3 linked regions of the Homo sapiens genome follow. The protein of the gene in region 2 purifies or fractionates together with the protein of the main gene of each other region. This does not show direct contact. Each region holds a gene or a part of one and is shown on either strand. Other genes may lie near its edges.

Evidence for each region.
Region 1: the proteins of COX4I2 (region 2) and SACM1L purify together in Homo sapiens (affinity purification with mass spectrometry; one large-scale study listed by BioGRID and IntAct). This does not show direct contact.
Region 3: the proteins of COX4I2 (region 2) and PIGA purify together in Homo sapiens (affinity purification with mass spectrometry; one large-scale study listed by BioGRID and IntAct). This does not show direct contact.

What each region holds. Positions count from the first base shown.
Region 1 is NC_000003.12:45,709,768-45,713,425, forward strand, and holds part of SACM1L (phosphatidylinositol-3-phosphatase SAC1), read left to right. Parts: intron 1-3,369; coding exon 3,370-3,429; intron 3,430-3,658.
Region 2 is NC_000020.11:31,643,160-31,645,615, forward strand, and holds the end of COX4I2 (cytochrome c oxidase subunit 4 isoform 2, mitochondrial), read left to right. Parts: intron 1-244; coding exon 245-376; intron 377-1,608; coding exon 1,609-1,745; 3' UTR 1,746-1,847; downstream 1,848-2,456. UniProt on the Homo sapiens protein: Component of the cytochrome c oxidase, the last enzyme in the mitochondrial electron transport chain which drives oxidative phosphorylation.
Region 3 is NC_000023.11:15,325,470-15,329,127, reverse strand, and holds part of PIGA (phosphatidylinositol N-acetylglucosaminyltransferase subunit A), read left to right. Parts: exon of another isoform or gene 1-814; coding exon of another isoform or gene 815-907; intron 908-3,081; coding exon 3,082-3,214; intron 3,215-3,658. UniProt on the Homo sapiens protein: Catalytic subunit of the glycosylphosphatidylinositol-N-acetylglucosaminyltransferase (GPI-GnT) complex that catalyzes the transfer of N-acetylglucosamine from UDP-N-acetylglucosamine to phosphatidylinositol and participates in the first step of GPI biosynthesis.

The sequences.
Region 1 (3,658 bases), on a different chromosome or scaffold from region 2:
GCTTTGAAAATATACCCTGTTTTAAATATACATCACAATCCCAGTGTGTGAGTCCTTGAATCTGTGTATATATACAGCCAGAATTGAGAATCACTGGTGTAGATATTCAGAAATCTTTGTATAAACACACATGTAAGTTATTAGAGGAAAATCTTTCAGAATTTGTATTTCTGCATAAGTATTACCAGGCTACCAAGTGCTAACTCTCAGATGTCAAATCTTCAAACTAGCATTGCATTCATTTGTAATTTCTTAACTCTCAGTGTTCGGTAGTGTAGCAGTTACATTAGCAGTGTAATTAGGCTTATAAAATTCATATTCTAACAGTTGATATTTCTTCTGTAGTGATGCTTATTTATAATTTTTATAACTAAAAATGTAACAAAAGTCACTAGAACTTGGAAAATATCCTTTTAAGGTTTTTTTTATTTTGCTTTTTTTTTTTTTCTTTGAGACAGAGTCTCACTCTGTCACCTAGGCTGTAGTGCAGTGGTGCGATCTCAGCTCACTGCAACCTCTGCCTCCTGGGTTCAAGCAATTCTCATGTCTCAGCCTTGTAGGTAGCTGCAATTACAGGCGTGTGCTAACACGCTTGGCTAGTTTTTAGTAGAGATGGGGTTTCGCCATGTTGCCCAGGCTGGCCTTGAACTCCTGGCCTCAAGTGATCCACCCACCTCATCCTCCCAAAGTGCTGGGATTACAGGCGTGAGCCACTGTGCCTGCCCAGTCTGCCTTTTTTTTTTTTTTTTTTAATATACAGTGAATATATCTTTAAAATTAGGTTTCATATGATCTCAACTTAAAGTTTCTTTTGTTCAGGAACCTGGATGATTGCTACCTGAATTTTTTTTTGACACACCTTAGAAGTGTTTAATGAGAAGACAGAATTTAAAAGGTCGCTCCATCTTACTTATTAGGTTGGACAATGTGAAGTCGCCAGTAATTGACCATTTTTGACCAATAAAAATGGTTATTTCATGTGGTTCAACCTAAATTAATATTTTAGTTGACTGGCTTTTTTGGGTGAGATTTTCAACTCTAATTTGGTAAAATTGTATGTAGGCTTAGATGGAAGTTTAGGTGCAGGCTAAGCATTCAAGAAACTTGGCTTTTAACTACAAAGAGACTTGCTTTTAAAAGCAGTTGCTACATTCTCCATTTGTTTATGAAACATCTCTACAACGTCAGCCATGTACCAGGAACTATACTAGCCCCTGGGGACCCAGAATGAAGCTGTGGACCCTGTCTTGTGGGAGCCTACAGTCTGCTGGGGAAGTGGTAGTCAAAGAATGGTTGCTATAATGGTGATATGTACCAAAGTGAGGTGGGATCCTGAAGGAATGAGGGTCTTTGCCTGAGGTTGTCAGGGACAACTTTATAAAGTAAGGTATCTACAGAGGACAGTAACTTTACACAGAAAGGTAACTTTTGAGCTGAGACTTGATGAAGATTTGTTGGTCAGGTGACAGTGGGCCGGGGGGTTCCAGGCAGAGGTGGTGGCAGAGGCTAAGCTGCAGAAAAAGCCATCTCATCTGTTGGGATGAGATGGGAATGTTTTGTCAGCTAAACAGAAAGTTAGCCAAGTGTAGTGGTTCATGCCTGTAATCCCAACACTTTAGGTGGCCGAGGCAGAAGGATTGCTTGAGTCCATGAGTTCAGGACCAGCCTGGGCAACATAGGGAGACCACAGCTCTACAAAAAAATTTAAAAATTAATCAGGTGTGGCGGCACGCACCTGCAATCCCAGCTACTCGGGAGGCTGAGGTGGGAGGTTCACTTGAGATAGAAGCCACAGTGTGCTGTCATCACGCCACTGCACTCCAGCCAAGGCAACAGCAAGACGGTCTAAAAAAAAAAAGTTAATGTTAACATAGGGAATCATAAAAGTGATAAATGGAACATATATACCCTAAATATTTTAACTTAAAACCTAAAAGTTTTACATTGGTCAATGTTTTTATGTACGGCCATAGGATTTTCTTTGTTTTTGGTTCCTTGATTCTGAATTGTCTTCCCTGTGTAAATTACATCCATAGGGCTTTCCCATTTGGGCCACTTTAAAGACTTTGACACTTACAGAGAAATCTGTGTGCAGAATCCTGTACATTTTTACTATGTTCTTTTATATTTTTTTAGTTGCCACTCCCACTCCAAATTCAACAGCAGTTTTGTTTTAGCAACTTGCCTCTTATCAAGTTACATTCCAAATCATTTAACTTTATAGAAACAGCAGTGTGTTTTTCATCTTATTTCATTGGTTTATAAAATAGTTAAACTATATAATGATGAAATAATAATAAGTATGACTGGTACAAATTCAGGAACACACACTTGAATCTCAGGAAGTGCGATTCAGCTGGTTGTGGTCAAGTGCAAAAGCCATTCCCTGTGACTTTTAGAGTCGGCGGTGCTGGTGGTTCAGTTGGTATGCTTCATAAATAGAATTGATTAATCTACTGAGTAGAGTCAGTTATTTTGTTTGTTTTTTCTTTTTTGAGACAGAGTCTTGCTCTGTCACCTATCCTGGAGTGCAGTGGCACGATCTTGGCTCATTGCAGCCTCCACCTCCCAGGTTCCAGTGATTCTTGTGCCTTAGCCTCCCCAAGTAACTGGGACTACAGACACGTGCTACCACGTCTGACTAATTTTTGCATCTTTAGTAGAGACATGTCGGCCAGGCTGGTCTCGAACTCCTAAGTCTCAAGTGATCCGCCTGCCTTGGCCTCTCAAAGTGCTGGGATTATAGGCATGAGCCACCACGTCTGGCCCTAAGTAGAGTTGATTAAATATAGATTGTTGAGGGAGCCTCTTCTGTATTTATGAAAGTTGGAGTGGCCAGAGATGAGATCAGAGAGTTAATTAGGGGCTGCCAGATCCTAGGACTGATTAGGCCATGCAGAGATTTGGTTCTTTAGATGACAGAGTCATTGAAGAATTTTGAGCAGATAGGAGACAGGACATGTTAGAGAACTCCTGCTGGTAGCATTGTGGAAAAATGAGTGGCGAGGGCTAATGCCTAAACTGGAGGCAAGGGAAGGTGTGTTAGTTAGGCTGGAGTCAGATGTTGGTAAAGATAGTGGGAGTAGAAATGTAAAAAATATGGATTTTGAAGGAGATTTAGTACTTGACAATTAAATGTAAGGGAAAGAAATACCGTAAAACTCCTCCCAGGTTTCTGTCTGGCCTGAGACAATGAGACAGAAATGCCCACAGGAGGTACAGATTTGCGGGGGAGATGTATTTTGTTTGAGGCCTGTCAAAGAAACTGGCTTCTAGCCATCAGAAAGAGACATTGATTGGTGTAGTTTTCTTTCTGTAGAAAGTAAGCTTGGCAGGAGATATTTTATTAAATTTTAAAACTTCTCTCAGGCAGATCAGCGGTTTGTATGGAATGGTCATCTTCTAAGAGAACTTTCTGCACAGCCAGAGGTAATGTACACGAAATAAAATCTGCTTAATTGTTACAGTCCAAGCTTTAATTCAATGCATGCTATAAAGTGACTTCCTAATCACCAAGAATTTCGAGAAACAATTCTAATTTAACTGTTTATAACTTACAAACTTGGATCAGGTCTACCCTGTCACATCATTCTAGGTTGAAGAAGCCTAACTATTTTACTCTGATCTTCTATAGAAGCCTTAAATAAAAATACATTGC
Region 2 (2,456 bases):
TTCCCTGGCCAGCCAACTGTTTGCCTGAAGCATTTGCCATTGTCTCCCCCTCTAAACTCCACAAGGGCAGGGATTTTCATCTGGCTCATTCACTGCTGTCACCTGTTCCTGGTCATGCTGTGCATATAGTACGTGCTCAGTAAGAATTTGCTGAATGAACAGCATCTGCTGCAGGGAGGGGGAAGCCGGGATCACTTAGAGTGGACGCACCTGAGGCCCCTTCCCCACACCCAACTGCCTCCAGTGTACCGGCTCCAGTTCAATGAGACCTTTGCGGAGATGAACCGTCGCTCCAATGAGTGGAAGACAGTGATGGGTTGTGTCTTCTTCTTCATTGGATTCGCAGCTCTGGTGATTTGGTGGCAGCGGGTCTACGGTGAGTGGCAACACCTCATCTGGCTGCAGTCCTGGGCCATGCCCTTGTGGTCACGGCCACCAGACAGTTTCTTAAAGGAACCATGCTGGCACTCATCTGAAGAGCTGAAAATTTCTGAAGAGGTGTAGGGTGAAGGACAGAGCATGGCTGTCTAGGTTTGAATGCAGGAACTTTACCTCTCTGGGCCTCAGTTTCGTCATCTCTAAAATGGGAATAGTAATGTTCCATCTCAGGGTACTTAAGAGGATTTTAATGAGAGAGGGCTGTAGGCCAGTGTTTGGCTCATAGTCATGAATGGTGTTGTAACTGATTGTTGTGTATGAACTGTGTGTTTTTCAGTGTATATATATACTGAACTTCTGCCTCCCCAGTTCAAATGATTCCCCTGCCTCAGCCTCCCGAGTAGCTGGGACTACAAGAGTGTGCCACCACGCCCGGCTAATTTTTGTATTTTTAGTAGAGACAGGGTTTCGCCATGTTGGCCAGGCTGGTCTCAAACTCCTGACCTCAAGTGATCCGCCTGCCTCGTCCTCCCAAAGTGCTGGGATTACAGGCATGAGCCACTGTGCCCGGTGGCCTGTCCCCATATTTTTAAAGTGAACACTCTTACCTACTTCCTACTTTCAACCCTCTTAGAAAGTAAAAGGAATTATTTCATCCTGGACCCTGCCCAGCAAGTGGGAACAAACTCAGTAATTATATAATTATAGTAGGTAACATGTATCAGGTGCTTAATATTTGTCTAACATTGTGCCAACAGCTTTGGAAATACTCAGTCCCCACAATCCTAGTGGATAGGACCTCTTTTGACAGGTAAGGAAACTGAGGCTCAGAGAGATGAAGTGACTTGTTGAAGGTCGCAGGGCAAGGGAGTGGTAGAGCCAGGATTTGGATTCAGGCAGTCTTCAAATCAGTGATCTTATTACCACAGACCACAGAGGTAGGTGAGGTGACTGAGTTGTGAAGGACCTTGGCCCAGCTCCCACAGTCCTTGGGGTCTAAGGCAAAGCTGGGGTCAGAACCCAGAGGTGCCTGGGACGATGCTCTAGGAGAAAGTCTGGGGTGCGGGGCTAGACAGGGTGGAGTGAGCTCCTCAGTGCAAGATACTTCAACCCTGGAGTATCTTGTACCGTCAGCCTTGCGAGTGGCTGGGAGGCTACAGGGTGGCTGGAGACCCTGGCTGGTGTAGGAAGACTGGCAGGATCCTGATCCACCCCATGTACTCCCTGCAGTATTTCCTCCAAAGCCGATCACCTTGACGGACGAGCGGAAAGCCCAGCAGCTGCAGCGCATGCTGGACATGAAGGTGAATCCTGTGCAGGGCCTGGCCTCCCGCTGGGACTATGAGAAGAAGCAGTGGAAGAAGTGACTTGCATCCCCAGCTGTCTCCCTGAGGCTCCGCCCTGGCTGGGAGCCTCTGGCGGCCCCTCCCCTCCCCTGCCCTTAACCCCAGTAAAGCTCCAAAAAAAAATTTATTCTCTTCTGCCTCTCACCACCACTTCAGACTTTACTTGGCACCTAAAATTAGGCATTTTAACAGGTGAGGGGCAAGAAGGGCTCAGAACTCATCTAGTCAATGAGGGCTTCCTGGAGGAGTGGGGGCTACAGCCAAGGCTTAGGTGGGATTAGGAAAGGCAAGAAGAAGGGAAGGCATTCGGGGTGGAGCAAGTGGCTTAATCAAAGGTGAGAACACTCTTTTATTCAGCTAATTAACAAATACTTGGCCGGGTGCGATGGCTCACTCCTGTAACCCCAGCACTTTGGGAGGCCAAGGAGGGCGGATCACTTGAGGTCAGGAGTTCAAGACCAGCCTGGCCAACATGGTGAAAGCCCCATCTCTACTAAAAATACAAAAAATTAGCTGGGCTACTTTTACACCCAGCTAATTTTTGTATTTTTTTTTTTTTTTTTTGAGACGGAGTCTCGCTCTGTCGCCCAGGCTGGAGTGCAGTGGCACGATCTTGGCTTACTGCAAGCTCCGCCTCCCGGGTTCATACCATTCTCCTGCCTCAGCCTCCCACGTAGCTGGGACTACAGGCGCCTGCCACCACGCCCGGCTACTTTTTTGTATTTTTAGTAG
Region 3 (3,658 bases), on a different chromosome or scaffold from region 2:
TAAAATCTAGATGTGGGCCTTGGTCAGTTTACGTTTGGAATGGAGAATCTTGATTGACCCAGCAGTCCATTTAAGTGGAGGTTGGCAAGGAAACTTGGCCTGAACTTCATTTTCTGGTTTGAAGGCAATGACATGCTTTCATTCTTTAATCAGGAACATGTGAACCGACTGGCATTCTGTATTCTGAATTCCTCCTGGGACATTAGTGATGTGTTTTTTTGTAACTTAGGAATTGTACCTAATTTATTTTTTAACCAAATAGCATATCTTCTTGAGATGGCTAGCTGAGAAAGAGTATGACACAAGTGTGATCAAGGATCAGCAAAATTAACTACCCATGCAAAGATTAAACCTGTTACCTTTACTTCCCTAATGTGGTATTTTAACTAGCTGAGCTAACCACCAATGGAGTGATGGTATGGCCTTTCCTGTACTCAATTCAGTAATTGAACAGTTATTTATCGAACCCTCTCCAGATGCCAGGCACCCTGCAGAAAGTAACATTCTGAAAAGGAACAGCCATGCCTGTAGCCCAAAAGTGAGTAGTTGTATTAATGGTCCATTCCTTATTAACAAATTAATTTCCTCAGGAGTTTATTGGACCAGATATCAAAGTCCCACTGGAATGTCTTAAGTGAGAGAGAGGATAAATCAAAGTTTTCCTTATCCAGGCTTTTTGGATGTCTTTTTCCTGAGCCTCCTCTTCCAAGCCTGTTTTGCTCTCAGTCAGGATTTACCAGCACTCTGCATGTGTAGGCACGCTCACCTGCTTCCTTCTGTAGTGGTAATGACAACCTACATTTGTATTCTGCAGTTGATAAAGCCTGTTCGTGGTACAATACCTCATTTGACCCTCCCAACAACTGTAGGGTAGATGTTATCTACATGAAATTGAGTCTCAGAGAGGGTAAGTAACTCACCCAGGTTACACAGTAAGTAACAGAGATGACACACGAGTTCAGCTTTTCTGGAGCTAAGTTCTCCTCTTCCTCCACCCATGCCCAGCCACTCATATCCTAGGTGTAGATCAGAAGGTTCTTAAAAATATTGTTAGACTGAGCTTTAAAAGCAGTTTGGATCAGAGATTTTCATTGTCTGTTTTGTGTTCACATGGCAGTCGAAAGTCTCTAGGTTCCATTGCATTATACCCTTCTTAGAGGCTCCAGAATAAATTTTTTTATAGTGGTGGGGAAAAGCCCTTATTCTTAGAATAAGAATATAGATCATTGGTAATAGTAATCAGTTCCATTTCTTATGAGATACTTGTCAGGATTAAATGACATAATGAATTTAAAGTATATTGCCTGTCATAGCAAGCACTCTGTTACTGTTAGCTATTATCATTTATGACTATTGCTCTATGTTGTTTTTTGTTTGTTTGAAGAATGGGCTCTTAACCTTGTACGAGAAAGAAAAGGGTGAGGAAGAAAATGGATTGAAGGAATTGTAGGAGACTAAATGTTAAAAGTCATTAAACTACCTTCTGGTTTATCTAGAAATCCAATTGAGTGATTTGTTAGTAGACATGAAACAAAGATAGCTATGATTTTAATGAGAAGCCTTCATATTCAGAAAAGCTGCGTGGGAATTTTTGATACATACAATAACAGTTTGAAAGTACTAGCAGAGTTTACTTAATGAATTCTACTTTGTATTATTTAATAAAAATGACCCTATAATATATATGTCATTTCTCCTATTTTATATCTGATATAAAATATCATCTATTTTATAACTGATCTGCCTATTTGGGGTGGAAGATTAAGAAATACAATTCTTATGTGTGTGTGCATTTTTAAAATTAATAAACTTAGCTCTAGGTGGATTATTTTATATTTACTTTTACTTTTTTTTTGTTTTTTTTTTTTTGAGACGGAGTCTCGCTCTGTCTCCCAGGCTGGAGTGCAGTGGCGCAATCTCGGCTCACTGCAAACTCCGCCTCCCGGGTTCACGCCATTCTCCTGCCTCAGCCTCCGGAGTAGCTGGGACTACAGGCGCCCGCCACTACGCCCGGCTAATTTTTTGTATTTTTAGTAGAGACGGGGTTTCACCATGTTAGCCAGGATGGTCTCAATTTCCTGACCTTGTGATCCGCCTGCCTTGGCCTCCCGAAATGCTGGGATTACTGGGATTACAGGCGTGAGCCACCGCGCCCTGCCTACTCTTACTTTTGAATATGTACGTTTTGTAATTGTTAATGAACTAGATTCTTAAATAGTGTTGACATTGTTGGGACTTTGGATAGCCACTCACTTTTTCAGACTAATAGGGCATAATTTACTTTATTGTTTTCTATTACCTGAGATTGTGTTTATATATTATAAGAAAATCATTTTGGAGAAAAAAGGAGCCAAGATGCATCCTTTTGTTCTATGGACTGTAGTGATCTAACAGTTGATGCCCTGCTGCCTTCATTTACCCTCATTCCAGGAAAGTGGGCTATAGCTGGTTTGAACTTAAATTTTGCGATAATGTAGTGTTCACTGCAAAATTCTCTGTACCAGCCACATTTTAAACAAAGTGGAGGCAGCAGTTAGATTTCGTTGCTTAGCCTTTTCCTGTGGCAGTAAGTGGGATCACAGACTGATAGAATTTTATAGCTGAAAGAGACTTTAGGTACATAGGTATCTTTATTTTATAGATCTTGAAACTTCCCCACGATCAATGGGCTTGCTGGTTAAAAAAGCTGGGAAAAGACCCAGATCTCCAATCAGCTGCCTGCTCTGGAGAAAACGAACTCAAACCTTAGCCACCTTAAATATACCTTTTTTAGAAGTACGCAATGTATAAACACAAGTGAATAACTTAAAGAATAGTCTGTTGAGATGAAACAGAATAGTCCATATTTTGGGTGTGTGGAAGGTAATGCATGTCAAGGTCTACGTCTTCAAGAATTGTAACTCTTGGGGGACCACTGCCAGTTTGCAAACAATTCCACTCCTGGAAAAGGTTTAAGAGAGTTTCTCTCCTTTATGGAGTGCATAGCTAATACTTTTCAAAATAAGTGGATTCTCAGTCGTTCTGGTGAATTTTTTTAAGTTTAAATATTAATATCTCCAACATTCAACTTTATATTTTCAGGGATCGATTTGCTTAGTGGTATAATACCTGAACTCTGTCAGAAATATCCAGATTTAAATTTCATAATTGGAGGAGAGGGACCAAAGAGAATCATTTTGGAAGAAGTTCGGGAAAGATACCAGCTGCATGACAGGTATTGATGAATTTCATGTTGTCTTGAGGGAGAAGATGTCAATTATCTCTATTTGGTTTTAACTGCATGCGTACCTTAGGTGTGTTGCTTCTCCTGCATGTAATTGATATACATATAATTGATATAAATCTAATGCAAGGACTGTTTTCAAAATTTTTATATAAATAGGAAACCTAGTTAATTCACTATTTTTTCCATTAGCCCAATATTATTTGACTTTGGGGGGCCATTGTTGGAGGCACCATGAAAGGCACAAAAAACAGCTGCTTTAACTGGAAGCGTTTGCAGATTTCCAGGCCATACTGTGTAGTGATTTAAGTAATAGGGCTCAAATCATGTAAATTGCTCTGCACATACAGATTTGGACAAGTCTCTTCCTCAGTAACTTACACAACACAAGGCTTGTACGTGTAAAGCATCAATTTTAATAAAAAGGCCATTTTC